Linked DNA regions of Homo sapiens: all the other regions are linked to region 1. Evidence: fine-mapped expression QTL. A gene starts in region 1. Each other region holds a variant in brackets. All regions are shown on one strand. Distances are from middle to middle. Region 1 holds the start of USP39 (ubiquitin specific peptidase 39). Region 2 holds the start of RNF181 (ring finger protein 181). Region 3 overlaps USP39 (ubiquitin specific peptidase 39).

Evidence for each region.
Region 2: its variant is fine-mapped to the expression of USP39 in whole blood (INTERVAL, PIP 0.99).
Region 3: its variant is fine-mapped to the expression of USP39 in whole blood (TOPMed, PIP above 0.99).

The regions. Positions count from the first base shown.
Region 1 is chr2:85,611,267-85,619,440 of GRCh38, reverse strand. USP39 (ubiquitin specific peptidase 39) reads right to left here and starts at 3,255. Exons shown (of 13, transcript NM_006590.4): 1 at 2,978-3,255; 2 at 152-221. The coding sequence starts at 3,245. It overlaps C2orf68 (chromosome 2 open reading frame 68), which reads left to right and starts at 7,375. Exons shown (of 4, transcript NM_001013649.4): 1 at 7,375-7,563; 2 at 7,655-7,773. The coding sequence starts at 7,457. RefSeq lists enhancers at 3,462-3,511, 3,542-3,591, 7,034-7,263 and silencers at 6,875-7,047, 7,534-7,603, 7,223-7,604.
Region 2 is chr2:85,590,200-85,598,373 of GRCh38, reverse strand. VAMP5 (vesicle associated membrane protein 5) reads right to left here. Exons shown (of 3, transcript NM_006634.3): 2 at 6,512-6,649; 3 at 4,968-5,426. The coding sequence ends at 5,217. RNF181 (ring finger protein 181) reads right to left here and starts at 2,629. Exons shown (of 5, transcript NM_016494.4): 1 at 2,525-2,629; 2 at 1,725-1,855; 3 at 1,443-1,552; 4 at 1,196-1,270; 5 at 666-929. The coding sequence starts at 2,610. The coding sequence ends at 870. RefSeq lists a silencer at 2,598-2,737 and enhancers at 4,681-5,180, 5,181-5,682. The variant T/C (reference allele first, on the strand shown) is at 5,124.
Region 3 is chr2:85,644,458-85,652,631 of GRCh38, reverse strand. It overlaps USP39 (ubiquitin specific peptidase 39), which reads right to left. Exons shown (of 13, transcript NM_006590.4): 11 at 7,549-7,684; 12 at 4,616-4,702; 13 at 3,349-3,871. The coding sequence ends at 3,824. Among named protein-coding and RNA genes, the nearest start is that of SFTPB, 20 kb to the left of the region's middle. The variant AG/G (reference allele first, on the strand shown) is at 3,530.

The DNA.
Region 1 (8,174 bases):
GAATAAGGAGTAACATGGCAAGAAGCACAACTCTCTAGACAGGTTCAAAAAAAGTAAAGTTTGTCAATGTGTTGTTCACTGTACAGTCCAAAAACTTTCTGCACAGATTCCATTGTTCTTGTGCTATACTCAGCATCTCTGTCCTACTGACCTGTTAATGGTGTCCAGGTACGGGCAGTGGCGGCTCCTCCGGTCCTCAGAATCCACTCGGCCATTCTTTGCTGAAAGGAAAATCATCACAGGCTTTGAAAATGGGAAACCTATACTCAGGGCCAACTAACAGAACAAAAAAAGAAACAGAAATGGGAAAAACTAATCAAGATGAGTTCCTATTGTTTGGGTGGCAACAATATCGAAAAAAAAGTCCACTAGCCGGGCGCGGTAGCTCATGCCTATAATCCCAGCACTTTGGGAAACCGAGATGGGTGGATCACCTGAGGTCAGGAGTTCAAGACCAGCCTGGCCAACTATGGTGAAACCCCGTCTCTACAAAAAACACAAAAATTAGCCAGGCATGGTGGTGGGTGCCTGTAATCCCAGCTATTCAGGAAGTTGAGGCAGGATAATTGCTTGAACCTGGGAGAAGGCGGTTGCAGTGAGCAGAGATCGTACCGCTGCACTCCAGCCTGGGCGACAAGAGCAAAACTCCCTCTCAAAAAAAAAAGAAAAGAAAAAAGCCCACTAATAGAACAAGCCACAAACTGGGAGAATATATTTGGTATACATAAAATCAACAGAAGATTTGTTTGCATTTTACATAAAGAAATCCCATAAAGCATGAAAAATATGAAATATGTCACAAGCACTAAAATAAACTAATTGTAATACAAATGTACCATATAGTTGTGTGTTTCGTTTTTTTTTTGTTTTTTTTTTTTTGAGACGGAGTCTCGCTCTGTCCCCCAGGCTGGAGTGCAATGGCGCGATCTCAGCTCACAGCAACCTCCGCCTCCCGGATTCAAGCAATTCTCCTGCCTCAGCCTCCCGAGTAGCTGGGACTACAGGCACAAGCCACCACACCCAGCTAATTTTCATACTTTTAGAAGAGACGGGGTTTCACCATGTTGGCCAGGCTGGTCTCGAACTCCTGACCTTGCGATCCACCCTCCTTGGCCTCCCAAAGTGCTGGGATTACAGGCGTGAGCCACTGCGCCCGGCCACAAATGTACTACGTAGTTTAAAGAGTGGCTGGGTGAGTGGCTCATGCCTGTAATCCCAGCACTCTGGGAGGCAGAGGCAGGCGGCTCACCTGAGGTCAGGAGTTCAAGGCCAGCCTGACCAATATAATAAAACCCCATCTCTACTAAAAAATACAAAAATTAGCCGGGCATGGTGGCATGCACGTGTAATCCCAGCCTACTTGGGAGGCTGAGACAGGAGAATTGCTTGAACCTGGGAGGCAGAGGTTGCAGTGAGCTGAGATCGTGCCATTGCACTCCAGCCTGGACAACAAGAGTGAAACTGTCTCAAAAAAAAAAAAAAGAATGTACATGTGTATCTATAAATCTACCACTTGTCAAAAACTTGAGTGGGTCTCAGATCTTACCCTACTCGCAAGCTAACAAGTTAGCCTGTCACAGTTTTATGAATGCTGATGGAAAGCATGTGACTACCTGGCCTGAAATAAAGGACAGTTTATTAGAGCAATGACAGTAGCCGGAATATAGCATTGGTGTCAGTTTTCCAAGTGAATTCCCACAAGGCAAAGTGAGGAGAACCCATGCACACAGTGAGCTGCCTTACAGGAGACGAACCCCGTGCTTAGAGAATCTGAACCATTAACCATTTTTTCAAACGAGGTCTCGCTCTGTTGCCTATCCTAGTCTTGAACTCTACCTCATCCTATAGAGTAGCTGCGATTACAGGTGTGAGCCACCACACCCTGCCCCAAATCTTTTATAAGGGATTGTGCCCTTGTCTCCTCGTTTTGTAGGGAGACACCATTTCTATCTTCCAAGGCTGCTCACTACACGAACATCCTTAACGAGAGTCCAGGAGAAAAGGCAGTCAGGCAATGGTCGCAGTACGTGCACAAACTCAAGAGACTAATGGAAAATTGTCTCCAGACTTTATTCAGCTTAAAAAGTGCTACATAATCCATACTTTAGTAGAGGTGCCTATTGCTCAAGCATTCTGAATATCTTGATTACAGAAATTACAAGACCTTAGATGTAAAAACTGAAGGAAAGCCGTGCACGGTGGCTCACGCCTGTAAACCCAGCACTTTGGGAGGCCGAGGTGAGTGGAACACTTGAGTCCAGGAGTTCGAGACCAGCCTAGGCAACATAGCGAGACTTGCTTCTCTTAAAACGCAAAAAAAAAAAAAAAAATTCTTTTTTAAAATGGAAGGAAGTAACACTTGTAAAATCAGCACTGAGCCCCCACATCGGGCATTCGATAAAGGGAAGCTGCTGTTGTTACGATTTTTGCAGTTAGAAATACCATACGTTTGGCCGGGCACGGTGGTTCACGCCTGTAATCCCAGCACTTTGGGAGGCCGAGGCGGGCGGATCACGAAGTCAGGAGATCGAGACCATCCTGGCTAACACGATGAAACCCCCTTCTCTACTAAAAACACAAAAAATTAGCCGGGCGTGGTGGCGGGAGCGGTGGTGGGCGCCTGTAATCCCAGCTACCTGGGAGGCGGAGGTAGGAGAATCGTTTGAACCGGGGAGGCAGAGGTTGCAGTGAGCCGAGATCGCGCCACTGCACTCCATCCTGGGTGACAGAATGAGACTCCATCTCAAAAAAAAAAAAAAAAAGAAAAAAGAAATACTATACGATTATTGAGAAGGGTACTGTCTTCATCAGAACAAGTCGAACAGCAGAATCGTCGAGTCTGGATCCCTCCTCTTCTCCACCCCAACCCCACCCCTCCCCCAACTCCGGCGCAGTGACCTAGCGGAAGATTAGAGACAAGAAAAAAGGACGCGAAAAAAACAGGCTCTCGCGCCTAGCCCGGCCCGGCCCCGCGCACCTCGCACCTCCCGCTCAGGCTCCGAGTCCTCATCGACCTCGCGCTCCCGCTTCACCCGCACAAACGGGACAACAGAAGCCGGGGCCTCGCGCGCGCTCGCCGGCTCGAACTCCCGCTTCACGCGCACAGGGCTGCCCCGGGAGCTCGCCGCCTCAGGCTCCCGCTCCCGATCTCGCTCCCGCTTGACGCGACCGGAGCTGCCCCGCGACTCAGACTCTCGCTTCCCGCGAGTGGAACCGCGAGACTCCCGCTTAGACCGGCCGGACATCTCCACTACCGGCCGAGTCGTCCAGCGCAGGCGCCAAGCACGCTCGAGCGCGCGGCACAAGGCCAATCAGGAGAGGGGCTGGTAGCGAGCCCCGAACTCTCTACGAGTCGCCACTGGGGACAAATCACGCTGCAGAAAATTTGTGGGCGGTGCTGTTCCTGCACTGGCTTCCTCTCCCCTTAGAACCTTCTGTGGGCCTACTGTCGTTTACAGTTTACTGAGACGGGAACCTTTACTGGCGACAGTTTTCTGGATAAAAGCTGTCAGGCCGGGCGCGGTGGCTTACGCCTGTAATCCCAGCACTTTGGGAGGCCGAGGCGGGTGGATCACCTGAGGTCGGGAGTTCGAGACCAACCTGACCAACATGGAGAAACCCCGTCTCTACTAAAAATACAAAATTAGCCCGGCATTGTGGCGCATGCCTGTAATCCCAGCTACTCGGGAGGCTAAGGCAGGAGAATCGCTTGAACCCAGGAGGCGGAGGTTGCGGTGAGCCGAGATCGCGCCATTGCACTCCAGCCTGGGCAACGAGCGAAACTCCGTCTCAAAAACAAAGAAGCTGTCATTCGGCCCCAGATTTGTGCCTCGAAACCACCACCGTGAGGTCGTTTCCCACAGTCTCCGCGGCTTGGGGGCTGACAATCCTGCACAGGAAAACTAGGCGACATTCCCAAATCATCCCCTTGACAGCCCTAATTCTACTTTTAGAAGGTTCTTGGTACCATGAAAACGCAAATGCCCGGTAAAGGCAGATTTACCATGAAGCTAATAAAGCTCTAACCTCAGGACCTGCCTTGAACTTGTTTGCTTGTTTGAACCGTTCCATTGAGGTATAATTGACATACAACAAACTACATGTTTAAAGTGTGCAATTTAGGCCAGGCGCTGTGGCTCATGCCTATAATACCAGCACTTTGGGAGGCCAAGGCGGGCGGATCACCTGAGGTCAGGACTGGAGACCAGCCTGGCCAATATGGTGAAACCCCATCTCTACTAAAAATACAAAAATTAGCCGGGCGTGGTGGCACGAGCCTGTTAACCCAGCTACTTAGGAGGCTGAGGCAGGAGAATCGCTTGAACCCGGGAGGCGGAGGTTGCAATGAGCCGAGATCGCCCCATTGCACTCCAGCCTGGGCAACCAGAGTGAAACTCTGTCATACCCACACCACACCACACCACACCACACCACACCACACCACACCACACCACACCACACTGTGTGCAATTTACTGAATTCTGACTTGCGGTATATGTCAGAGGCGTTTCAACCAGACCAACTCCATCTTGAGTGAGGGTTAGGAAAATGAGGCTGGGCCTTGACAGGCTGCATTCCCAGGAAGTTAGGTATTCCTAGCCTAGAGATGTCTACAGTTAAGGGAACAGAGAGATAATGTTTACTAAACAGATCCAGACTTGGGAGTGTCCTAATATCCCAATATCTGGAGAATAAAGGCATTCCTAATTTTGCTTTAAAGATAATATTTCTTCTTGCAAAATATAATAATAAAATTAATCCTTTATCACAAACCCTTGTAGCAGAGCACATCTCCCCATGATCTTTTTATCCTATATATAAACAAGCATTGTAGCCATGGTGGATGCGTTCCTCCTTTTACTTTCAGGAACGCCCTATTCTGTCAATGGAGTAGCTGTACTTTCACTACTTTACATTTTATTTTTTTGATACAGAGTCTTGCTCTGTCACCCAGGTTGGAGTGCATTGGTGAGATCTCGGCTCACTGCAACTTCTGCCTCCTGGGTTCAAGTGATTATCCTGCCTCAGACTCCTGAGTAGCTGGGATTACATGCACCTGCCACCATGCCCGGCTAATTTTTGTATTTTTAGTAGGCACAGAGTTTCACCATGTTGGCCAGGCTGGTATGGAAGTGCTGACCTCAAGTGATCCGCCCGCCTCCCCTTCCAAAGTGCAGGGATTACAGGCATAAGCCGCGACACCTGGCTACTTTACTTTCTTAATAAACTTGCTTTTACTTTGCACTGTGGACTCACCCTGAATTCTTTCTTGCACAAGATCCAAGAACCCTCTGCTGGGGTCTGAATAGGGATCCCTTTCCTGTAACATATACACCCATGAAGCCATCACCACAATCAAGAGACGGGATCTGGGCCCAGTACGGTGGCTCACACTTATAATCCCAGCACTTTGGGAGGCCTGAGGCAGGAGGATCACTTGAGGTCAGGAGTTCAAGACTAGCCTTGGCAACATAGAGAGACCCCCCCCATCTCCACAAAAAAATTTTAAAATTAGCTGGGCATGGTGGCATGCTATTCAGGAGGCTGAGGCAGGAGGATCGTTTGGGCCTGAGAGGTGGAGGCTGCAGTGAGCAGTGATTGCACCACTACAATCCAACCTATGCGACAGTGAGATCCTGCCTCAAAAAAATAAAAAAATAAAAAAAAATTTAAAGAATCTACCCAGCCCCAAAGATATCCTCTTCCTCCCAGAGAACCCCCACAAAAATCAACTGATCTCTCGGTCACTATAGATTAGTTTGCACTTCCTAGAGTCTCATATAAATGGAATCATACAGAGTCCCTGGCCTCTTTCACTGGGCATATTTATTTTATGATCCATCCATGTTGTTGAGCTACAGATCTTCCTTTGGATTGCTCAGTAATATTCCATCGTGTGGCTGGACCACCATTGGTCCCTGTTTTTTGTTTTTGTTTTTTGTTTTTTGATTTGGAGGTTGGACTGCAGTGGCTCGATCTCGGCTGACTGCAACCTCCGCCTCCCGGGTTCAAGCGATTCTCCTGCCTCAGCCTCCCAAGTAGCTGGGATTACAAGCACCGGCCATCAAGCCCAGCTAATTTTTTGTATTTTTTTTTAGTAGAGACGGGGTTTCACCATTTTGGCCAGGCTAGTCTCGAACTCCTGACCTCTTGATCTGCCCGCCTGGGCCTCCCAAAGTGCTGGGATTACAGGCGTGAGCCACCACGCCCGGCTCTTTCTTTCTTTTTTAATGTATTTTTTTCTTGTAGAGACGATGTCTCGCTGTGTTGCCCAGGCTGGTCTCAAATTCCTCCCTCCAGCGATACTCCCACTTCGGCATCCCAAAGTTTTGGAATTACAGACATGAGCCACTGCATCCAGCCGTTTGTCCCTGTCCTAATCATGAATTCCTGATTTTGACTTTTGTAAAAGGACTTGAGAATTTTACACGCTGTGACGTGAACCCAGTGGTCAGAAAAAATAGAAAAAAAAAAAAAAGGGGCCGGGCACGGTGGCTCATGCCTGCAATCCCAACACTTTGGGAGGCCGAGGCAGGCGGATCACCTGAGGTCAGGAGTTCGAGACCAGCCTGGCCAACGTGGTGAAACCTTATCTCTACCAAAAATACAAAACTTAGCCGGGCGTGGTGGCACGCGCATGTAGTCCCAGCTACTCGGGAGGCTGAGGCAGGAGAATCGCTTGAACCCGGGAGGCGGAGGTTGCAGTGAGCCGAAATCACGCCAATGCACTCCAGCCTGAGCGACAGAGTGAGACTCCTTCTCAAAAAGAAAAAAAAAAGGAAAAATAAATAAAAAAGAAAATAATACACCCGTAGGTCCCTCAAAAACCCTGGGTCCTCCCGCGGGGACAGTTAAGCCATCGGCGCCGTGAGCAGGAGGCAAGCCGGGCCAGGAGAGCCTTCGCGGCGCCTGCGGCCTGGGCGCCGCTGTTGCCCTGCCTGAGCACTTCAAGGCCTCACAATCCATTTGAGGTAGGTGCTCTAGGTGTTCCCATTTACTAATGAGGAAACTGAGAAGTGGCAGCGTTACACAGTCAGCCAAAGTCACGCAGATGGCGATGGATTGCACAGCATCCTATTACCAGAAAAAAGATGGGAAGGCACCGCCGTAAGCATCGAGTTGTGTTATAGATGATTTGCATTTTTCTGAAGGTTCTGGTATCAGCTGTAAGCCGAAGTCCTTGTTTCCTATTGATATGTTACGAAAAAACAAACAAAAAAAAACAAAAACAAAAGCCCTCCGTCCGGGGGGTGGAAGTCAAGCATACCCTACTCCACCCGACCCGACCAGACCCGAAAACTCCGTGCGCTGCATCGCTTGGCCAGGCCGGGGCCTCCCAGACCGGAAGTCAGGATGCGGGGCCGGAAGCTGAGCAAGGGGCGGCGCGGAGCTCTGTGGGCGGGTGGCTGTTGTTGGGGCCGTCGAGGCGGCGGCGACTCTGCGTCCCCGGCTCCTGATGGAGGCGGGGCCGCATCCCCGGCCGGGGCACTGCTGCAAGCCTGGGGGGCGGCTGGACATGAACCACGGCTTCGTGCACCATATCCGACGGAACCAGATCGCTCGGTACCGCCCCGCCCTGCGCCGCCGCCGCCACCACTCCTGGCCTGGCCTGGCCCGGCCCGACAGTCCCTGACTCCCGCTCGGCTCCCCGCAGGGACGACTATGACAAGAAGGTGAAGCAGGCGGCCAAGGAGAAGGTGAGGAGGCGGCACACGCCCGCGCCGACGCGGCCCCGCAAGCCAGACCTGCAGGTGTACCTGCCGCGACACCGAGGTGAGGCCGCCCGCCCCGCCTGCCTCCAGCCCGCGCGCTCTTCCTGCAACGCACTCCCCTTCTCTATAGGGAAAAACCACTTCTTACTCCTAAGGTTCAGCTCATCTCGTCTCTTTCCGGAACCTCCACCTCAGCGCTCCCAAATCTCCGCTGAATGATTCTCACCAAGAACTGGGACGACTCATAAGCCCCCAGTTAAGCATCGCTGTCAGAGTATCGGGGAGCCAGCAAGAAGTTTATCTGCCGGTTTGCCCCACCGTGCTGTATTTTAGTAAGGTGCTCCGCTACCTAGCAAAGAGAAAGTCTGGCACAGCGATGAGCGACCAGCACATAATTGCGGAATGAACCCAGTAAATGGCCTTTCCCCAGCTTCTCTGCTACCTAGAGATCACACTGGTTAA
Region 2 (8,174 bases), 21 kb after region 1:
GCCTCTAAGCAATCTAAAGAACTAACTTGGTCTGATAATCTCACCCATCCCCCACTCAGAGTCTGGTTTGAACTTTGATTCCTTAGGAGGCATGGGGGGAAGGTGGGGGTGGTACAGAGAGCAACTTTAAAATATTAAAAGTGGCTTTCTCAATGGAGCAAAAAGAAAACCTGTGGGATTACAAAGTTAACTAGACATTGCAGTGGGAGGAGGGTGCAGGCTAGTTTATCAGCTTTTTTTTTTTTTTTTTTTGAGACGGAGTTTTGCTCTTGTTGCCCAGGCTAGAGTGCAATGGCATGATCTCAGCTCACTGCAACTTCTGCCTCCCAGGTTCAAGCAATTCTCCTGCCTCAGCCTCCCAAGTAGCTGGGATTACAGGTGCGTGCCACCATGCCCAGCTAATGTTTGTATTTTTAGTAGAAACGGGGTTTCACCATGTTGGTCAGGAAGGTCTCGAACTCCTGACCTCGTGATCCACCTGTCTTGGCCTCCCAAACTGCTGGCATTACAGACATGAGCCACTGCACCCAGCCTAGTTTATCAGCTTTAAGTAATTAACTGGGTACCAGACCCTGACACATTTTGCCTTCCAACCATGAACACATAGGCCCAAGCCCTGGCTATTGCAGTAATCCAGTTCTTTACCACTGCCATGAGTCCAGATGGGCCAGCAGGGAGGAAAACCGCAGCCTGGTGCCTTCTGCGATTTAGGATCACCTTCCCCAACAGAAGTAGAGACCTGATGGAGGATGCAGAGCCCCTGGCCAGGTCTGTGATCAATACAGCCTCAGGGTGGGTAAAGAAACCTTTAATGAGGATTCAAGGTTAATAAGGAAGACGCAGAGGGCCAGCACTCAGCCCCAACCTCCTCACGTGTACATGGCTCCATGGAGGTTCTCCAGTCGGTGTTGCTGCTGCTGTTTTCGAGCCTGAAGGAAAGAAGGCATGCTGGGCAGGGGCCAAAACTGAAGGCCTATGGGTGAGGGGATGGGCAGCTATTATGGGGCTGGCTCTGTTTTCAGGCCTCTGGCGTCTGCATTGCTGAGGCTCTCACCACAAATCAAAGTCACTAAGAAGACAGCCAGAGCCAGGGATTCTGAGGCCTACCCAGTCCTGCTGAGGTGGGAAGTGATGGCAGCGGGGACAGGACTCAGGGAGCCCATTACGACCCCTCCACTTAAGCATCAGCCCCTACCTTATCTCGTCTGTGCTCCTCATAAGTGTCGTCATCAGTGGGCAGCTCATAGCGGCACAAGGGACAGGAATTTGTCTGAGAAAAGTAGAGTAGTGTTCTAGCCTTGGTCTGATCTTCATAAGCTGATAACCACCCTCCCCTGCTCCCAACTGCCACTCTTCTTCCATCCCCCAGCAGTCCATGAACAGAAAGAAGCTTGAGTACTGGGCCCAGGGCACGGTGAGAGCTAGAAGAAGAGAAGCAGTACCTTGCTTAGCCAGGGCAGAATGCAGCTGGAATGGAAAAGGTGATGGCAAGGCATCTCAATGGCAGTCTCCTCCTCCTCAAATTCCAAAAGACACACGGGGCACTTGAGCTCTTTAGGAAGGAGTGCTGATCAGGAGAGCTGCTACAGGCTCTGCCTCCCAAGCTCCCACTCCTGAAGGACACTTGCCCCCACCTGACCTGGAAAACTGAAGGACCAGACCACAGTCTGGCTTGGGGAAGGGGTGGGTCTGGCCCAAATAGCAGAAAGAATCAGTGTCCTCACCAGCCTGAGAGCCTCTGATGACTGTCCTGGGGAGGTTCTCAACCACAGTCTTGGCAGCTGGTGGAGGCAGGTGGTGGTCCCAATCTACTACCAACCCCAAGTCTTCAAAGTCCATCCTATTGAAAAGTGACCTGGGGAAGGGGATGTAAAGTCAGAACAAAGGAAAACTATGCTTTTTCTTTGTCCCCATAATCCACTGGACATTAATAAACACGCTGCCCAGCTAGTAGGAATAATAGCTACCCTTAGTAGTTAGTAGATGCTCACTAGATAAAAAGCACGATGGGAAATAGTTTACAACTGCTATCAGACCGCCCCAGCACGTAAAGTGTTTATTCCCATTTTACACATGAGGCAACAGATTCAGAGAAGTTACTCAGGCTACGCTGAATAACCTGGTAGAGCCCAGATTCCAAGACCAAGCCAGATTCCAGGTCCAGTAACAGCAGTGCCTGCTGTTACTGATGAATATACCCACTCACAGCACACGGCCCCAACCCCGCCCCCATGCCTCACCTTCTCTGAGACCTCCCAGAGCCTGCTGTCCTTCCGCCCCCACGCCCACCACTCTCCAGCTCCAATCTTTCCCGCAATCCCCTTGCCCCAGGCCGGCCCAACGGACGGCCCAAATTATCGAGATGCTCATCCCCACACCCCTCAGTCTCGCCGCCCGTACTAACACTCCAGATTACTCATCTGTCCTCCCCAGAATCCGCTGCCCCTGGTAATCCGCCTTCTCCAGCCAGCCCCAGCCCAGAAACCTGCTGGTTGGACCCTATCCCCAAGCCCCGCGCACCCACCTTGCGAGCTCCAGCAGCATGTTGGTTCGCGTCTCCTGCTCAGGGTCCGACGGCTCGCAGTCGTGTTCATCGAAATAGGACGCCATGGCTGCCCAGCCTTCTGACACAGCCCTCGGACCCTGCTCGATAGCGGCCTAGCGGCGCTGGCCAATAAACTGACGAGCTGAGAGAGGCTGGCCAATCAGAGTATCCGAGGGACGGGCATAGTGGCTCGTTAAACAGCACGGAAAGCGGAAGTACTAATTCGGCCCCCTCTCATTGGCTTGAACAAGTCAGGTGACCAGAGACTAACGCCAATGATGGAGATCTGGCTGGTGAGGAATCATTTGTTTTGGAGTCGGAGCCAAGACTGAATTCCCGGGGATTTCTGGCGCGATCGCGTCCAAGTGTCTGGTGTGTAAGGCTCTTCAGTCTGCCCTGAAGCTCAGAGGGCTTCGACAGTACAGATGCTAGAGGCCTCTGCGAGCAAAGGCGGCGCTGGCCCAGGGGTTCAGGTTCCTGCGAGCGTTGGCCCATGGCGCTTCCGGATGCGCTGTCCGGATCCCCGCCGGACACTTCTGCCCCCGCGGCCCTCTAGTTGGTTCACCAGTTTGCGTTTGATTCCTGCGCATTTCTTATGTGTTAGGCATAATAATAAAGGGTGGGGCAAGCCTCCCCAACTGAGAGAGATCTCTTTGCCGGAGAACCTGGGGCCTCAACCAGCTCATGGGACTGTTACCTTCAGCCCGTTGCTATCCCTAGCTTCTGTAAAACTGCTGGCTTGTACTAAGACCTTTTCATTCCTGGCTACACATGAATTCCCAGAGGAGAGAATGGGCGCGGAGGAGCTTTAGAAACACCCGTGTCTGATACCTTCGAAGATTCTGATTTAACTGATCTGTGGTGGGGCCTGGGCAATGGCACTTGTATAAATTATGCAGGTGAAGCAGGTTTAAGAACCACTGCACTCAATGATTTGGATGATAGGTACTATTTAGCATCTAGAACTGTTAGTCTGATGTATGTTTTACACGCTCGATCATCCCCTCAATAGACCCAGGAGCTAAGCGTCATTATGCCCTTTTTACCTCAGAAGTGGCTTGCCCAAATTTGCAGTCTGTAAGTGGTGTTGCAGACCAGCTGCAGGGCCAAGTGCTTTCCTCCATCTTTCCCAAGAGAGGAAGACGCTAATGCGCTCAGTAAAACTAACACGCTCTGTAAGGGGTGAAGCTCCACACAACTCAGGCTTATTCTGGTTTCTGTCAGTAGCGCTCACTTTACCCAGCAAGGAACTGCTTATTTTACACACTTGACCCTGAATTCCCCTTGCCACTCACACCTGAGTTTGAACTGCAGCTAAGTAGCCCAGGCAGAGGCTGCCCTGTTTCCACAGTCTTGGTGTGGCTTTATTTCCTTCTTCCATGCCTTTGCCCAATGATCTTTGCTATGGCCCTGAAGGCACTGCCTCCCTGGCCTATATGGCCCTGTAGCTTTGAAAAGCCTGAATTCAGGCTGGACATGGTGGCTCACGCCTGCAATCCCAGCACTAAAGGCAAGAGAATTGCTTGAGCCCAGGAGTTCGAGACCAGCCTCGGCAACATAGACCCCGTCGAAAGAGGGAGGGAGAGAAGACACAGGAGAGACCCCGTCGAAAAAGGAAGGAAGGGAGGGAGGGAGATGGGAATACCAAGGAGTGCTTTAAGGTCCCCATCTCTTGCTGTCACTTCCCCCATCTGCAGTCTGATGTAAAGCTTGAGGTAGATAGAATGTGGAAAGAGAAATTGAGGAGTGGGAAGTGTTCAGAGGGGAAACCATTTATCTGAAGGTGAGAGCCTTATGAAAAATTTTTTGGGCCAGGCGCGGTGGCTCATGCCTGCAATTCTAGCACTTCGGAAGGCCGAGGCAGGTGGATCACCTGAGGTGAAGAGTTCAAGACCAGCTTGGCCAACATGGTGAAACCTTGTCTCTACTAAAAATACAAAAATTAGCCAGGTGTGATGGTGGGCACCTGTAATCCCAGCTACTTGGGAGGCTGAGGCAGGAGAATTGCTTGAACCCAGGAGGTGGAGTTTGCAGTGAGCTGAGATAGTGCCATTGCACTCCAGCCTGAGCAACAGAGCAAAAACTCTGTCTCAAAAAAAAAAAAAAAAAATTGGTGAAGTGCTTTCTTCTTTGTCATCGCATCTACAGTCTCATTGGTCCTCTAAGCATCCCCAAGATGACAGAAAAATAATAGATTTCATTCTCAGAGAAACAGGCTCAGATGGGGAGGACTGGTTCAAGGGTCTGCTTTGGGGGCCATTGTGTTCTTGCATCCACACTCCCTGTCTGTGTCGGGCTGGATCAAGTAGGGAAGGGAGAGGAAGGAGCCATCTCCCAGGGGTGGAGTCCTTTGGGTGATGGGCTTTTTAAGCAGCCCTAGGGGTAGAGACAGATGGGATTAACCAACCTGGGGACCTTCACACACAGATACCAGCTTTTAATCAAACAGCAGTTTTTACTGAGCTCCAGGTGGGGCTGGCCCAGCATGGCCAGTACAGCAGGCTGCCCTCAAGGGCCAGTCTGTGGCATGACAGGAAATGCAGGGGTGCACATGTTGGGGCTGCCCTTTGGCACTCAC[T/C]GGGGTGGGTCAAGGGAGAGCAAACACCAAGGTCCTCTGGAGACCAGAATCGGCCAGTGCAGCCATTTGGCTTCTCCTTCAGGACCAGCTGGGTCAGTTCCCAGGCCCTGAGGCAATGCCTGCATCCTGGGTCCGTGGGGCACTACTGCTGTCACTGCTCTGAGGGAGAAAGACGACCAGCAGCACAATCAGGATGATGAGCAGGACACCAACCACCACCAGCCCCACGCAGATCCGGTAACGGATGTTCTCCCAGCACTTCTTCTGGGCCAGGTTCTGTGTAGTCTTGTTGAAGGTTGAGCTCTGCGGATACCCCCAGACACAAAGTGGGAGTTAGCTGGCACCCTCTTGGCCTGGGAGCCAGCTCCTCCCAACCCCATCTCAGTAAGGCTTAGTCTCCTCCTGCATCCTCCCCATCTTGTCTACTTTCTTTCTTTTTTTTTTTTTTTTGAGAAGGAGTCTCTCCCTGTCACCCAGGCTGGAGTACAGTGGCACAATCTCAGCTCACTGCAACCTCTGCCTCCCGGGTTCAAGCAATTCTCCTGTCTCAGCCTCCCTAGTAGCTGGGACTACAGGTGCACACCACTGCGCCCGGCTAATTTTTGTATTTTTAGTTGAGATGGGGTTTCACCATACTGGCTAGGATAGTCTTGAACTCCTGACCTTGTGATCTGCCCACCTCGGCCTCCCAAAGTGTTGGGATTACAGGCGTGAGACACCGCGCCCGGCCTTGTCTGCTCTCTTTCTATACCACCTGCCGTGGAACCCTCCCAGCCTGACTCATCTCAAACACCGGTGTGGCCCTTGACTTTCAGCCCTAGTGTCTCACCCTCAGTTAACAATGCCAGTACTCAGGCTGGACACAGTGGCTCATGCCTGTAATCCCAGCACATTGGAAAGCCAAGGTGGGAGGATCTCTTGGATCCAGGAGTTCAAGACCAGCCTGGGCAACATGGTGAGACCTCATCTCTACAAAAAATCAAAAATTAGACAGGCATGGTGGTGCAGGCTTGTAGTCCTAGCTCTTCAGGAGGCTGAGGCAGGAGGATCACTTAAGCCTGGGAGGTAGAGGCTGCAGCAAATATGATTGTGCCACTGTACTAGCCTGGGCGACAGAGTGAGACTCTGTCTCAAAGTAAAAAAGAAACAAAAAACGATACCAGTTTTCTACCTTTAAGAAGGTCCACAGCTTCAAACCAAGGCCTTCTTATCTTGTGGGGTCTATCTGTTGCATGTCTAGGCTATGGGTGCCTGAGGAAACCCAGAGGCCCCACACTGGCCCTCAAGAAGGCCTCAACCCCACCAAGGAACTGGAGATCCTGAATACAGCCCAAGAGAGACTTTCCCAATCCTCTCCCCTCCCCTCCATGCTCCCCCAGGCCTCACACCATATCCAGGAGTTGGTCTGAACGCTGCTGCAGTTCGGCCAGCTTCACACCACGCTCCAGGACCTTGCCGAAGTTGTTACGCATAATTTCCGTCACCTCGTTCGCCTGCTGCTGGCACCGCTCCAACTCTATTCCTGCCTGGACACCAAGCCCGAGGTCAGGGCTGCATGAGGCCCCCACCTGGCCCTCATCTGCCCCTGAGATCTAGAAGCCTCCTTCTCCCCCTGTAGGTGGGTACAGCATGAGAGTAACAGCATCCTTCGTGTAAGGGTATGATGTGTGCGGAGTGAAGGTCTGGCCTTCGGGGTGAGTGCGGCACACCTTAAGTCTCACAGGCTCCTCCCCTTGCACGTCAAGGCAGGGCCTAGGACCTAGGTAAGTCCCGGCTTCCAGCACCTCAGCTTCCTCTAAGCTGTCCCAAGGTGGGATCTTCCCAGGACCCCACCCTCCCACAAAGCTGATTCTTTTCTCACCTGCTCCAGAATGGCGTCTACCCAATCAATGCACAGCTGCCCTAAGGTTTCCCACTGGCCTAAGAAGGCAGCAAAGAATGGGTAACCAAGCTACCTGGCTGGAACACACAGGGAGGAGACCTACCCTACAGGCTAGAAAGGTAATTTTGAAGCAGCACACATCATAGTCTCTGCCTAACCCCTCTATCCCCAAACTGAGAAGCTCAGATCTTCCTCTTTGGGCCTCTGACTGGTCAGGCCAGTTCTGCCTCCTGGCCTGATCCTGCTCCCTATATCACTGCTCCAACTTCCCTCTCCGTCTGGGAACCTCAGTGGTACCGGTTTTTGGCCTCCAGCCTTCCACTCAGCTGGGGTCCTCACTGGGGTCCAACTTACAGAGATGAGACTAACTCTTGGATTTCCCAGCCTGGGGGGCAGCTTTGCCTAACAGAAAACACCAGCTCATTTCAGAGGACTGGGAAGGGAGGTCTTGGATCCAAGCTGGGGAAGGTTGAAATGACAGGGGAGAGAGAAAGTCTGGGTCATGTGCAAGAAAGGCACTGGGCTTTGGGTGCACGTAACAGAGAGAGACACCAGGCAGGAGGCCCTGGTATAAGCCAGAAGCCTAGGAGCAGGGACATTTCAGGGAGATGAATACCAGTGGATTAGCAAACCACAGAAACTCCTTCCTCTTAGCCTACTTCCCCACAGCCCATCCCTGTTCCCTTCCCCTCCTTACAAGAAGGGCAAGCTTCTTTTCCTGCCAGCCCACGTCACCCATTGTCTACAACAGACATTTTGGCACTTGACTGAATTCCACTTAAAACCAGAAAACTTAAGTGTTAGAAGAGATCTGGTGGTCACAGAGGGCTACCTCCCACTCAGCCAAGAATCCTCCTTCAGGATCCTTGCAGCTGCTTGGTATACAGCCTCCAAGAATTCCCACTGTATGAGTCCTATCTCCCCAGCTGGACCACAAACTCCCAGAGGGAGGGCAGGGAGCAGTGCCCTGCCTTTGTCCACCACCATCCCACCGGGAGGCCAGCACAGTGCTGACCATTGCAAGCAAGGAATCAGTGAGTGGGCCAATTACGATACAGCCTAACCAAAAGCAATTCTTATTCTCAAGAGATGTTCTCCCAGCATGTTTTTCTAGCCCTGCATGAGTTTCGAGGGGCAGGCATTTGAAACCCAAATAGGTCAATATTTAC
Region 3 (8,174 bases), 33 kb before region 1:
TCTTGCTCTGTCACCCAGAGCTCAAACTCAGCTCACTGCAGCCTTGACTCAAGTGATCCTCCTGCCTCCCATGTAGCTGGGACCACAGGTGCATGCCACCACTCCTGGCTAATTTTTTTTTTTTGAGGGATGGGGTCTCACTTTGTTGCCCAGGCTGGTCTTGAACTCCTGGGCTCAAGCAATCCTCCTGCCTTGGCTTCCCAAACTGCTGGGATTACATCTGTAAGCTACCACGCCTGGGGCCAGATGTAGCATCTTTACTCATACACAACAGCTCTTGGCACTTGGTATGGAGCTACCAAGTTAGAATCAAATTGGTATTTCTCCATACCAATTTATAAGGATCACCAGAAGTAGTTTGCTTTTACCTGGCAGGGCCAACAGTATACCTTCACAGTGTTACCTCAGGACTATGTCAGTTCTGCTCTCTAGCATAATACAGTTCACAGAGATCTTGATCATCTTGACAATCCACAAAATATCACACTAGTCCACTACAGTGATGACACTATGCTGTTGGATCTGATGAGCAGAAAGTACCAAGCGCTTTAGATGCCTTAGTAAGACATAAATAAGAAGTTGGGAGTTAAACCCAAAAACAAGTCAGGGAACCAGGCACGGTGGCTCACGCCTGTAATCCCAGCACTTTGGGAGGCCAAGGCGGGCGGATCACGAGGTCAGGAGATTGAGACCATCCTGGATAACACGGTGAACCCCCGTCTCTACTAAAAATACAAAAAAATAGCCAGGCGTGGTAGCAGGCGCCTGTAGTCCCAGCTACTCAGGAGGCTGAGGCAGGAGAATGGCGTGAACCCGGGAGGTGGAGCTTGCAGTGAGCCGAGATCGCACCACTGCACTCCAGCCTGGGCGACAGAGCGAGACTCCGTTCTCAGAAAAAAACAAAACAAACAAACAAACAAACAATTCAGGGGCCTGCCACCTCAGAGACATTTCTCGGAAGTCAACAGTATAGAGTTATGTCAAAATATCCTCTCCAAGACAGGTGGCTGTACCTCATACCACCACACACACACACACGCACGCACGCACGCACAATGTTTGATAGGTTTTTCTTGGCTTTTGGAGACCACATATACATTTGAGCAGCACAGGCACCCAGTAGCTCCACCTGGCACTCTCCTCCCTGGACAGTTTTATAGCAGAGGCCTCCAGGGAGACACCTGTGAATGGCTTTCCTGAGTACACTACAAAGCAGATTTTTAACGAGGTTCAGAGGGCATATTTTTAGCAAGGTCTGGATCTCAGCTTTGGACACTGTCAGCCCCAGAACTAGTGGCAGCTCTTTGTATCTGTTATTCCTACATTCTTTACTTTACTTGTTACTAACTAATCCCGTTTCTACAAACCCGTTGTAGTTAATAATTATTGAAATTAAACTTTCCCTGAACAGATTATTATACATGAATTTCTCTAACTGGATAGTGTAATCTTCACCTCAAAAATAGCCAAGTTTGAAAGAGAAACTCATGGCAGGGCACAGTGGCTCATGCCTGTAATCCCAACACTTTGGGAGGCCAAGGTCAGCAGATCACCTGAGGTCAGGAGTTCAAGACCAGCCTGACCAACATGGTGAAACCCCATCTCTACTAAAAATACAAAAATTAGCCGGGTGTGGGGCGCACACCTGTAGTCCCACCTACTCGGAAGGCTGTGGCAGGAGAATCACTCGAGCCTGAGAGGCAGAGGTCGGCAGTGAGCTGAGATCACACCACTGCACTCCAGCCTGGACAAGAGTGAGACTCCATCTCAAAAAAAAAAAAAGGGAAACTCACAAGCTCAATTTTTTTTCTTTTTTGTAATGACAAGGTCTTGCTCTGTTGCCCAGGCTGGAGTGCAGTGGTGCAATCATGGTTCACTGCAGCCTCAAATCCTGCGCTCAAAGGACCTTCCTGCCTCAGCCTCCCAGATAGGTGGAACTACAGGCACACACCACCATGCCCGGCTAATAGGGTCTTGCTATGTTGGCCAGGCTGGTCTTGAACTCCTGGCCACAAACAATTCTTCCACCTCAGCCTCCCGAAGTGTTAGGATTACAGGCAGGAGCCACCACACCTGGCAAGCTCAGTTCTAAACAATGTTAAGTTTGAGTTTACTTTAAAACACCCAAAAATAGGGCTGGGCACCATGGCTCACGCCTGTAATCCCAACACTTTGGGAGGCCGAGGCGGGTGGATCACTTGAGGTCAGGAGTTCGAGACCAGCCTGGCCAACATGATGAAACCCCGTCTCTACTAAAAATACAAAAATTAGCTGGGCACGGTGGTGGTCGCCTATAATCCCAGCTATTCAGGAGGCTGAGGCAGGAGAATCACTTGAACCCAGGAGGCAGAGGTTGCAGTGAGCTGAGATCATGCCACTGCACTCTAGCCTGGGCGACAGAGCAAGACTCCATCTCTAAAATAAAAATTAAAATTAAAAAATAAAATAAAATAAATAAAATAAAATAAAATAAAAAAATTAGCCGGAAATCACTTGACCCTGGGAGGTGGAGGTTGCAGTGAGCCAAGATTGTGCCACTGCATTCCAGCCTGGGCAACAGAGCGAAGTTCAAGAGTTTAGAAAAATCTGGGATTAAGATGTGTTTATGAGTCATTTCCATAAAAATGCATAGCTGAAATGGCCTAGGGAAAAAGTAAACAGCAAGAAGAGTGACGCTAGGACTGAATCTTGAGAAAACCCAAATTTAATGGCTGGATAGAAGAGATAAGCCTCCTAAGGAAATACTGGAGCTTCCAGAGAGGTAGAGGAAAGTGAGGACAAGGTTGTGACCAGGTAAAGGGTGGCACCACAGGAGTGCGGGGCTCCTGTCTCCATTCAACAGAACTTGCTGGGGCTGACTGGCTGCCTCCAGCTGCTTCCCATATCTTTGGACCTGCCACAGTGCTCATGCCAAGGCCACCCTTCTTCTAGGCTGCTAGAGCCCACGACTGAGCTTGATGGGAGCCATTTCTGCTGAATTGTCTGACGGAATCTTTGCCCTGGGGCTCCACACTGGACTGGCTGAGACCACCTCAGAATTGCACTGTAGTGAGAAGCGCTTCCTATTTCCTTTTTTTCCTCTTCCCTTACTCATTCCTGCACTGCAGCTGGAAACTGCCCACCTCTGGCCCTCTAGTTAAGCACAATAATAATGTATCCCCTTGACTCAGGTATTTTTTTACTTAGAAACAAATGCATCCTAACTGACACACCACCCACAAGCTGACAGGAAAGGGCGAGCGTGATGTGCACCAGATGTCAGACTGTAGGGTAGAGAGTTTGTGAAGATTAAAAAGGAAAATATTTTCCTCAGCCAACCACCAAAGGAAAAGATATAAAACAAGAGGCTGGTTTAAAAACAGGAGACTATTTAATCCATCTAAAAATACAAATCAGGAAATGGGGGGAACCATAGGAAAATCCTCCACCTCTAACAGAGCGAAGTTACTGGCTTTCTGCTTGCTCCAAGAATCCCAAGGCTTGATGTTTGGAAGGAATTATCTGTTCTTCAACTACTCCCAGATACTCA[AG/G]ACATAAGTTACACACATCTGGAGAAGGGTTCTGCCCTGCTGAAGCTAGATGGGAGCTCAATGCATGGGAGAAAGGAGCATCAATCTAGAAAAAAATGATCAAAGAACAGCTGAGTGACAGTGTGGGGCCATCCCAGGCAAGTGGGCTCTTGGTGCTCTGGTGTAGCCAGAACCCATACAAGCTGGGCTGGCCTAGGAAGCCCACCAGCCAGCCTGTGTTCAGCTACAGCTTCTGTGTTCTTATTTACCATCATCAGCCACAGCCCTTGGGAGCAAAGCCCTAGACGCCTCCTTCAAGCCCCCTGCTGGTTGGTTTCATCATTATCTCGCCTCTTCCAAATCTGTAAGAAATGAAAACACAAACTGAAGTCTAGGAGGCATTCAGTCAACAGACACTTATCAAATACCTATTCTGTGCCAGGCCATGGACAACTTGTCACCCCATTTACAAATCTGCTATACCCCATTTGGAAATCTGCTACAGTGGCTACAGCCACTGAGGAGAAAAAAGTTATCTCTAGAAGGAGAGGTATCACTTTCTTCTTACAAAGCTATGGCTTTTGTCTCAATCTTCCTTCTTTTGCCAGGTACTAGGGCAGTTACATAAAGAGAAGACAGAGATGCTCTGTGCTCCATGGGTCAATCCAATGGAGAGGACAGACAGGCAAAGCGATATGGCCGGCACTAAAACAAACGTCAAGTAGAAAGCGCTGTGGGGTCACAAAGCTGCCTGGGGCTCTGGGGAGCACTTCGTGGTCGACTTCTAGCCAGCCTCCCTGATGAGTCTAGGTTCTTCCTCCTCGAAACCAGACCGCACACTTCTGCAAAACTAACCTGGCCATAATCGCAACTTTCTTTGCTCACTCATACATTTTCTACACTTCCTTATACTTCTTTTCTGAAAATCTCTGCTTGACTTTCAGGGCCATACATTCTGCCCCCAACTCACTACTAAGTACTTCCCAATAGGTACCTGGCCCTCCAACCAAGGTCCTAACTCTATCCCTCTTCCTGCCTTGGCCCACTCCTCTCACTGGCCCCATACGCCACCTATTTGTGGCTCACTAAGCCTGTGGCCAACCCACCTGAATGTAAGCCTCTGACAGTGTGATCATCTGGGGAAGGATGTCAGTCACCTGGAGGTCTTGTAATTCATACCATTTGCCTGTCCCCTGCAGAAAGTATGAAGAGCTGGGTTAGTCTGCTCTCTAAAACCAAAAGGGTGTAGAAGGAAAGGATCATAGCCAAGACTAGAAAAATTAGAAGAACAGCCACTAGACATCATCCAGCAACAGTCATAAAGAAGAGGGTACATGACTTCTTCTGGCCATGATTCAATTAATAGGACTTTTGGTGTGTCAATCATGGCAAACTCAATTCCTGTTGGGAATTTTTTTAAAGCACTGTTTTTTGTTTGTTGTTTTTTTGTTTTTTTTTTTTTTTGAGACAGGGTCTCACTCTGTCACCCAGGCTGGACTACAGTGGTGTAATCACAGCTCACTGCAGCCTTGACCCTCTGGATTCAAGCGATCCTCCCCTCAGCCTCCCAGGTAGCTGGAACTACAGGTGTGTGCCACTAAAACTGGCTAATTTTTTTTTTAATAGCAATGGGGTCCCACTGTGTTGCCCAGGCTAACTCCTGGTCTCAAAAGATCCTCCCGCCTCAGCCTCCTAAAGTGCTAGGATTATGGGTATGAGCCACTGCGCCTGGCCCCTTGAAGTACAATGGAGTCTGAAACACTTCTGTACATCTTTTTAAAAGGAATTTAGTGGACACTAAAGATGAGAAAAGAGGAAGCCATCTAATCATCACCTATGATGTCTCCTTCCTGCTCAGAAATGACAGACTAGACATTCTCACTTATGAGGTACACAGTGTCAACCACTGAGAGAACCTAAATATGGACATTCCTGGCTGGGCACAGGGGCTTACGCCTGTAATCCCAGCATTTTGGGAGGCCGAGGTGGGCAGATCACTTGAGGTAAGGAGTTTGAGACCAGCCTGGCCAACACAGTAAAACCCCGTCTCTACCAAAAATACAAAAATTAGCCAGGCCTGGTGGCAGGTGCCTGTAGGTCCCAGCTACTTGGGAGGCTGAGGCAGGAGAATCACTTGAACCCAGGAGGTGGAGGTTGCAGTGAGCCAAGATCATGCCACTGCATTCCATCCTGGGTGATAGGGTGAGACTCTGTCTTAAAAAAAAAAAAAAAAAAAAAAGCAACAGGTCATCAAGAAAAGGTGTCCTTGGTGGACACTGTCTATCACACTAACCTGATTCCTTTGGCCTAAGAAACCAGTGCTACAAATACAGCAAAACGTATCTCACTTCATGCTTCCATGAACAAGGAAAAAATGTTTCTAGATTAAGGCAGAGGCACCTCTGGCCGCCCACCTGTCTTATCCAACCAAAGTTCTAAGAAATACCAAAGACCATTATTGTAGAATATAAATATTCCAGATCCTCTGGATATTACAATAGTTGAGAATATAGGAAACATAAGGAAAGCTCAGGATCACATAAGTAAGTTCCCATTCCTGCTTCAAGGACGAGTTAAGAACATGGGCTTTGAAGCAGAGTACCTGGGTCAAATCCTAATTCTACTGACTTGAGGTCAATTACTGAAACTCTGAGCCTAGGTCTCCTCCTCTGTAAAAAAGATGATACTGACATCTGTCTTGGAGGTGTGTTTTAATGAAAGAAATGAGATTAATGTACATTAAGTAACTGGCGTACTGCCTAACCACAATAAAGCACTTGATAAACAGAAGCTAGTTAAGATTAAACCCACAGTTCCAGAAGAGGCTAATCAAATGAGAACAATTTATGCTAATAATCTATGTGATATCAAATATATCTCAAGTACATGTTTTATCTGTTTTCAACTTGAGACAAATCCACAACATTTTTAAGATGAAAGGGAGCCTCTAAACCAGTGCTTCGCAAACTTTAATTTCTTACAAATCAGAGGGTCACGTTAAAATCCAGGTTCTGATGTGGTAGGTTTGAGGGGACTGAGAGTCTGCATTTCTAACAAGCTGATTTCTAACAAGACTGATGCTGATGTTATTGGTCCAAGGATGCATCCCACTTTGGATGGTAAGGCTCTAGTCTAGGGCAGAGGTTCTCAACCTTGGCTGCATATCAGGGTCTCTCAGGGAACTTCAAAACATCAAATGCCAGCCAGGCATGGTGGCTCATACCTGTAATCCCAGCAGTTTCAGAAGCTGAGGCGGGAGGATTGCTTGAGACCAGCATGAGCATCATAGCACAACCCCATCTCAATTAACTTGAAAAATAGAAAAGACATCAAACAGAAAAGACATCCACCTCCAGACAATCTAACAGAGAGCCTTTAACCTTAATGCTGACTGATGTTTAGGGTCAGATAATTCTTTGTAACACGGGCTGTCCTTCGTGTTGTAAAATATATACCAACATCCCTGGCCTCTGCCCCAGCTGAAAACTACTATTATAACCGGCCTGGTGTGGTGCCAGGCATTGGGATTTTAAAAAGCTCCCGGTTGGCGCGGTGGCTCACGCCTGTAATCCCAACACTTTGGGAGGCCGAGGTGGGTGGATCACAAGGTCAGGAGTTCAAGACTGGCCTGGCCAAGATCGTAAAACCCCGTCTCTACTAAAAATACAAAAATTAGCCGGGCGTGGTGATGGGCGCCTGTAATCCCATAATCCCAGCTATTCGGGAGGCTGAGGCAGAGAACTGCTTGAACCCAGGAGGCGGAGGTTGCAGTGAGCCAAGATCACGCCACTGCACTCCAGCCTGGGCTACAGAGCGAGACCCTGTCTCAAAAAAAAAAAAAAAAAGCTCCCAAGGTGAGTCCAATGTGTAGCCAAAATTGAGAACCACTGCCTTAAACTAACTACTGACAGCACTATTACTTGCAGAGTCCCAAAGCCAAGGCCAAGCAAGGACACACTGAAGGGAGCTGCCCTCTGAGATGCCAAAGAAACACCTGTTTTTGCCACTCTGTGCCATGAGACGGTCAGCAGCCACTCACATGATGAAGCACGTGGATCCGGTAGGAGCCCTCGGAGGGCTTGCCGTCATGCACGATGTTGGCAATGAGGTCATAGGTGGTATTCTTGTGTACTGCTTGTACTTCTTCAGACAAGTATTCTCTCAGATCCACATTTCTGTTAATGGTTAAAATAAAGCCGGAATAATCAGACAAAGGCTGTGAGGTTAAGGAAACTGTCCTACACAAACGGACCACAAAATTGTTCAGCCCTATTTTAGGACCCTTTCTCTGGGTAGGCTTGCAGAGTCAAGAAGGTCCAGGTGCGTTGGAATTCACAAAATATGCCAAAATGAATGACAGGGTTACACAGCTTCCCATATGATTTAAAAAAAAAAAAAAGAATGACAGGCAGTGGCTCATACCTATAATCCCAACACTTTGAGAGGTCAAGGTAGGAGGACTGCTTGAGCCCAGGAGTTCAAGGCCAGCCTGGGCAATGTAGTGAGACCCCTACAAAAAAAAAATTAGCCAGGCATGGTGGTACATGCATGTGGTCCTAGCTACTCAGGAGGCTGAGGTGAGAGGATCACTTGAGCCCAGGAGATTACGGCTAAAGTGAGCCAGGACCACACTATTGCACTCCAGCCTGGGCGACAGTGAGACCC